2 separate regions of the Homo sapiens genome follow, and region 1 is linked to region 2. The links come from fine-mapping of genetic effects on gene expression. A gene starts in region 2. The other region holds a variant in brackets. All regions are shown on one strand. Distances are between the middles of the regions.

Region 1 (2,901 bases), 42 kb before region 2:
CCCCGCACGTAGATCGCAGCAGGCGTGATTACACATGCACACCAACATGCATGCCGCCGGCACATGCTCGAGACGTGTGGACACCCCAGCGTGCGTGTGCGTGTGATGTGTGTGATGCACCAGAGCACCCCCTCCACCCCCACCTTGGGTGTGTGTGCGTGGTCTGAGCTTCCCCCTTCACCGGGGCTGTTGTGTAGACTGCAGCCAAGTGTAACACAGCAGTCCATCACGCCCTCTCTGTCCTCTGTGAACAGTGTGTGTGCGTGCGTGAGACCACAGATCTGTGGACACACCATTTGTGTACGTGGAATTTTGTGTTTCAGTGTTTGAACCTAATGCAACAGCAACAAAGCCACTGATACCTGAGCCCTTTGTGTCTGCTACAAACCAGGCAGGTGGTGTGTGTGGACTCACACTCACATTCTCAGAGGATCCAGGGAGGCCCAGGTACACACAGGCCATGGCAGACACCCCATGTCTTTGTTACCCCAGGGGCTGTGGCATGTCCCAGGAGGGTGTGCATGTGTGTGTGTGTGTGTGTGTGTGTGTCCAGGATGTGCCTGAAGTATTGATAGGTCTTCTCAGATAGAGCCCTCCACACTGTGGACTGGACACCTGTTTTGGGAGGGCACAGAAATGTGTATTTCTTGCTACCTAGAATGCAGCTGTGTGTGTGTGGCGTGCGTGTGTATGCACGTGTGTGTGTGTGTTAGGGGCTCTCTACATGGTGTGCTTTTTAATTTTTTTTTGTTTTTTGTTTTTTGTTTTTTTCGAGACGGAGTCTTGCTCTGTCACCCAGGCTGGAGTGCAGTGGCGCAATCTCAGCTCACTGCAACCTGTGCCTCCCTGACGCAAGCGATTCTCATGCCTCAGCCTCCCAAGTAGCTGGGACTACAGGCGCCTGCCACCACGCCTGGCTAATTTTAGAATTTTAGTAGAGATGAGGTTTTGACATGTTGGCCAGGCTGGTCTCGAACTCCTGACCTCAGGTGATCCGCCCACTTTGGCCTCCCTAAGTGCTGGCATTACAGGCCTGAGCCACCACGCCTGGCCTACATGATGTGTTTCTGTCCTGCCTGACCTACATGGTGTGTTTCTGCCCTGCGTATTACACACACACACACACACGTGCGTGCACACACACTTCTAAGGACGTGGCCCCATCTGGCTTTGTCTCTCCAGTTGTCCTTGCCCTGCCCCCCTCCCCAGAGGTGCTGCCCAGTGCTGGTGTGGCCACACACGGCTACATCATTGTGCAGGCAGAGCTCCCTGCCTGCCCAGCCTCAGGGCTCTGCA[T/C]GCTCACACCTAGATCCTCATCTTCCTCCATGTCTCTGCCCAGCATAGCCCCGAGCCCCTGGAAGCTGGTACCCCTCAGTGTGCTCACACGTGGCAAGGCCGAGGTGGCCCCAGGCAGGGGCCATACCAGGCACAAACCATGCACGCTGGCATGGGTGCGGGGATCACACGAATGCCTCCTGGAAGGAAAGGGCTACTTGTAGGAATGTTACTGATGAGGCAAGATGCCAAGGACTTCCCTGCAGGGATCAAAGATCAGGACACGACCCCTTCCTCACACACCCACCTCAGACCTGGGAGAGGACTGTGTGTCCCCCACTGCCCCATCGGATGCTCTGGGCTCTGCCTCAGGGAACTCGGGTTTGGGGAAATGTCTATTTCAGAAGTACTGGAGTGGCCAGTGTGGCAGTGGCCACTCAGGGTGGGCTGGGTCCTGAGACCCATCCCCGACACCTCTCCTGCTGAACCCTCAGGCTGCTCCCCACACCAGGGTGTGACTGAGGGGTACACAGGCCTGGATTTCTGGTGTGAGGAAGGGGCTAGCACCTCCCCTGTTGTGTAGCCAGCACAGGCACAATTTGTGGGTTTGGTGGCAGGTAGGTGGTGCGTGGGAGAAAGGACAGTGTTAGAGGTCCCCACTCCGTGGTCTAGGATCATGAAAGGTGAACACACAAGTACACAAATGTGCCATGCCCTGGCATGGGGCTTATGTGTGCACAGGCAAGGCACTCGGTGTGTGTGTGCGGACCCCAGGGTCCCAGGTCATGTGAAGCGTACGTGTGTGTGCATTGTATGTGTGTGTACATTGTGTGTGCATTGTGTGTGCATGTGGCCAAACAGATGTGACCTCCCAGAACACAGTACCCCTCCACCTCTACCCGAGCTCAGACAGCCGAGCTCTCCCTTGTCCTGTGTGTGTGTCAGTGTGGCCACGTGCGTAACCCCAGGTGGGCTGTCCTGAGCTGGGGGCCTGCCTGTCCCTTCCCAGAACGCCCCTCTGCAGGACAGGAAGTCTGCCCCAAGTCTGGCCACGGCCCTCCTGCTCCCATCTCGGGCTGCTTGGGAGACATCAGAGCAGGCCCCAGCCCCCAGTCCCCTCTTCCGGCCGCCTGGACAGGACCCCCATTCAGCCCAGGTGTTTCCGGAAGTCCCACGGCCTTGGGGCCACAGGAGAAGGGTTGAAGCGTGGCTGGGGCACCACTCCCCCCACCTGGAGTGGCATTGGGCCCACAGCTGCCCATCTCTGGGCCTCAGGTGGACCAGGGGATCTCTAAGGGTCTGCTGTGCCCTTTCTATGCGTCCTCCACATCCTATGATGTGCCTGCTTGTTGGCTGCTGTCTGTGTGCGTCCTGGCATGTTGTCTGGAGGCTGGTGTCTTTTGCATGTTCTTGGACAAATGTGTGCTACCTGCCCAGGCGCCTGCAACCATTGAGCCCACATGTGCCCCACGTGTGCCCTGCGGGTGGTCCCGGGCCTGGCCAGGGCTCAGTGCTCCTCTTCCCCCTCCTCCCTGTTCCCACCCCTCATGAAGCACACTGCGTGTCCATCCCATGTACCCGTGGGTCGACACACGCTCTTGCCACGCCCTGAGCGTGTACACATGA
Region 2 (2,901 bases):
TGTTCAAATATGGAGGTTGTGGCACAGACAGGGCAGGGACTAGCCCAGATCCCCTAGCGCCATGGTCCCCACCCCAACCGCCTCTGATATCCACCCCCACAGGAGTGCGTTCCCCAAAGTACCTCCTGCAGCTCACTTTCTCCTTTTTCCTGGGGTGATGGTGGGGCAACCCCAGACTAACAGAGCAGCAACCCTGGGTCCCAGTTCATTCGCTCCTGCCCAGAGGCAAGGCTTTTACTTTCCACACCTGTCCAATTAGCAGGCTAGTCTGAGCCATCCTTGGTACGTGACCTGCTCTGACATGCCTGGCTCACCCTGGGGCGGTTACTTGGCTGGCTACAGAGGGCGCACCCTCCATGATCTCAGTTTCCCACTGGCTTGCAAGCGGGGTGGAGGCCTGTCCAGGGTCACACAGCTGGCCACAAGCAGGGAGGAGCCAGGACTGTGTCTGCTGATCCTCACCCTGGGACCTCCCTCCATCCCACTTCCTGTGAGGCCACTGCTGGGGCAGACCGTTAGCCAACACCGTCCTCCTGCACCTGGGGTTTATCAGCTTGAGACTCGCTTATCAGTTTCCTCATCAGCCTCCTTCCCCAGCGGTTCCCTCCCGGGCATGATCTCTTGTCAGTTTTCCTGGTTGACACTAGCACCCCTTGGGCCCGCTGGAGAGTGGCCACCTTCCCTGGGACGGGCCCACCTTCAGCTGGGTGACCCTTCCACCCAGCTAATCCATCTCGAGCCCCCCACCTGTTGATGCAGCCCCCACCCAGCTGACCTGCCTTTGAAGCTGGCACTGGGACTTAGGAACCACTTCTGCCAGGTACAGGCTCCATCTGGACCACTCTGCCTCACTGTTGCAGTCAACCCCACCAGCGATTTGTTCACCCCACTCCCACTACGACACCTTTAGGACTTTCGTGTCCTCCGGTGGCCCCGTCTCCTGGGGTCCCCTGTACACACACATCCGTAAGAAGGGACTTGCTCAGTCCCGCGGGACCTTGTTCCTTCCCCCTTTGACGAAAGCCCCCTTTAACCTGTCTCCCTTGGGACCTGTTTACTTCGCCCCCCCCCCGACCTGTGCCCCCCACTTGCTCTGCCCCACCGGGTGTGACCCCTCCCGGCCCCTCACCATGGCGAAGCCCGAGAGCAAGGCAGACGTGCGGCTGGAAGCTTTGAGCTTGGCCCGGCTGAGGTAGAGGCGGCGCCAGCTGAGCGCCCGCAGCGAGTGCTGACTGGCCCCCATGAGGTCCAGGTAGCCGCGGTGCACGAACTCCCGGTACGTGGCCGAGCCTGCAGGGCTCTCGCCCTCAGGGTTCAGCGGGGCCTGCTCGCCCGCGTCCCCCTCGCCGCCCTTCATCCTGGGGGGGGGGCGGCACCAGGCGGTCACTACGGGGCGGAAGCGCCTCGGGGGCCCCAGCCGGGCCGGCCCAAGCCCGGGGGCGGCCCCATTCCCAGACAGGACGAGCAGGATGCAGGCGGCGGGCGCCCAGGAAGAGGCACCCCCAGTGGAGCAAGAAAAGCAGCGTCTGCGGGGAGCCCCAGGAGCCGGAGCGGGACAGCGGAGGCCAAAACAGGAACTGGGACAGAGGCGGAGCCGGGGCTAGCCACATGATGGGGTGGAGCCGGGGACCAAGTCCCCGCAGTCCCGGGCCCGCAGAGATTCCCCGCGACCCCTACCCACCAAGAACGTTATCCAAGCGCCCGGACCCCACCGAGGTGCACGCCAACCCCAGCCCCCTCCAAGGTACAGCTGGACACCCCAGGTGTCCACACTTCCAAATCCCTCCCAAAATGAGTCCAGGAGAGGTGAGCCCACTCATCTGTAGGTAGGGACCCCGCAGATACACACACGAACTCCGCAGCCCCGGCTGGAAGATTTTGAGTTTTATAGCAAACCGTATTGTACAGACCCGGGGCCCAGGGGCCCAGCCCGGCTGGGTCCCCCGCTTGCCCCTCGCCGGGCTGCCTCTTCCCTCCCCCAAGCGGCCCCATTCTCAAGCCTCTCGCTATCCCCAGGCCCCACCCCTCCGGCCTTTGGTCCGCCCAGCCCTCCCCCCACCCGCGCACCTCCCTGTTACCTGAGGTATGTGGATAGATCTCCCCTCCCCTACATGGTAAGCCCCGGCCCCCCGGAGGCCTGCGCGGAGGGGCGGGACCTGGCCCGGCTCATCCCCGGGGTCCCGAAGCCCCACCCCGCGCTCGAGGAAGGGGCAGGGAAGGAGGGCCAGCAGAGTCTGTTACTAGGTTCCCATGGCAACTAAGAGGGGGCCATTTCCAGCCTTAGCACTGGCATCGGGAGGTGTCCGTTGGCTGCTATTTCCATGGCAACCAGGAGTGGCAGTTCCCTGGGCAAATGGGATACAAGTTTCCATGACGATGAAAGAGTGGGAAGAGCCAGGCTGGAGGAGTCCCATGGTCCCCATTCTTGGGCTGGCGCCCCCAGCCATAATGCGGGTCCGGCGGGTGCCGCCGCTCAATACAGTAAAACAAGAACAAGCCTGGGGGTGGCGCAGTCCCAAATGGGCGCCCACCGGCCCGGTCTCAGGTCTCAGTCCAAGCTGGTCCAGTCCCCTCACACCCCGGCTCCCCCAGGTCCGAGATTCCCCCGGTTCAAGTAACACTTCAGTACAGATGAATGTTCAAGTATTGTGCGGAGAGGCGGGCAGGGGGTTGGGGCGCCCCTCGCCACTCCCCTGGGCCGCGAGCTGAAGAGCGGCTGCCCGCGGCCCCCACTCCTTGCAATAGCTGCCGTTTTCAGTGACGTTCAAGGAGTCAGGGTCAGGGGGAAGGAACTGAAGCCTGGGGAGGGGGGAAGCAGAGAGGTGACCCCCAAGGGGGTATTGCTGTCCCCACACCTGCTCTCATCCCCACCTCCAGCTCAGCCCCAGCTTGCCCCTGGTT

What was found. PIP is the estimated chance that this variant, and not a neighbour inherited with it, causes the effect.
Region 1: its variant is the best candidate, but not a certain one, in a credible set for the expression of ORAI3 in whole blood (TOPMed, PIP 0.70).

The regions. Positions count from the first base shown.
Region 1 is chr16:30,989,739-30,992,639 of GRCh38, reverse strand. STX1B (syntaxin 1B) reads left to right here. Exons shown (of 10, transcript NM_052874.5): 10 at 1-2,901. Among named protein-coding and RNA genes, the nearest start is that of HSD3B7, 6.0 kb to the right of the region's middle. RefSeq lists enhancers at 1,313-1,956, 1,957-2,600. The variant T/C (reference allele first, on the strand shown) is at 1,297.
Region 2 is chr16:30,947,746-30,950,646 of GRCh38, reverse strand. ORAI3 (ORAI calcium release-activated calcium modulator 3) reads right to left here and starts at 1,579. Exons shown (of 2, transcript NM_152288.3): 1 at 1,130-1,579. The coding sequence starts at 1,357. FBXL19 (F-box and leucine rich repeat protein 19) reads right to left here. Exons shown (of 11, transcript NM_001382779.1): 11 at 1,864-2,901. RefSeq lists enhancers at 1-223, 224-453, 742-1,260 and silencers at 1,184-1,233, 1,274-1,533, 1,904-2,153.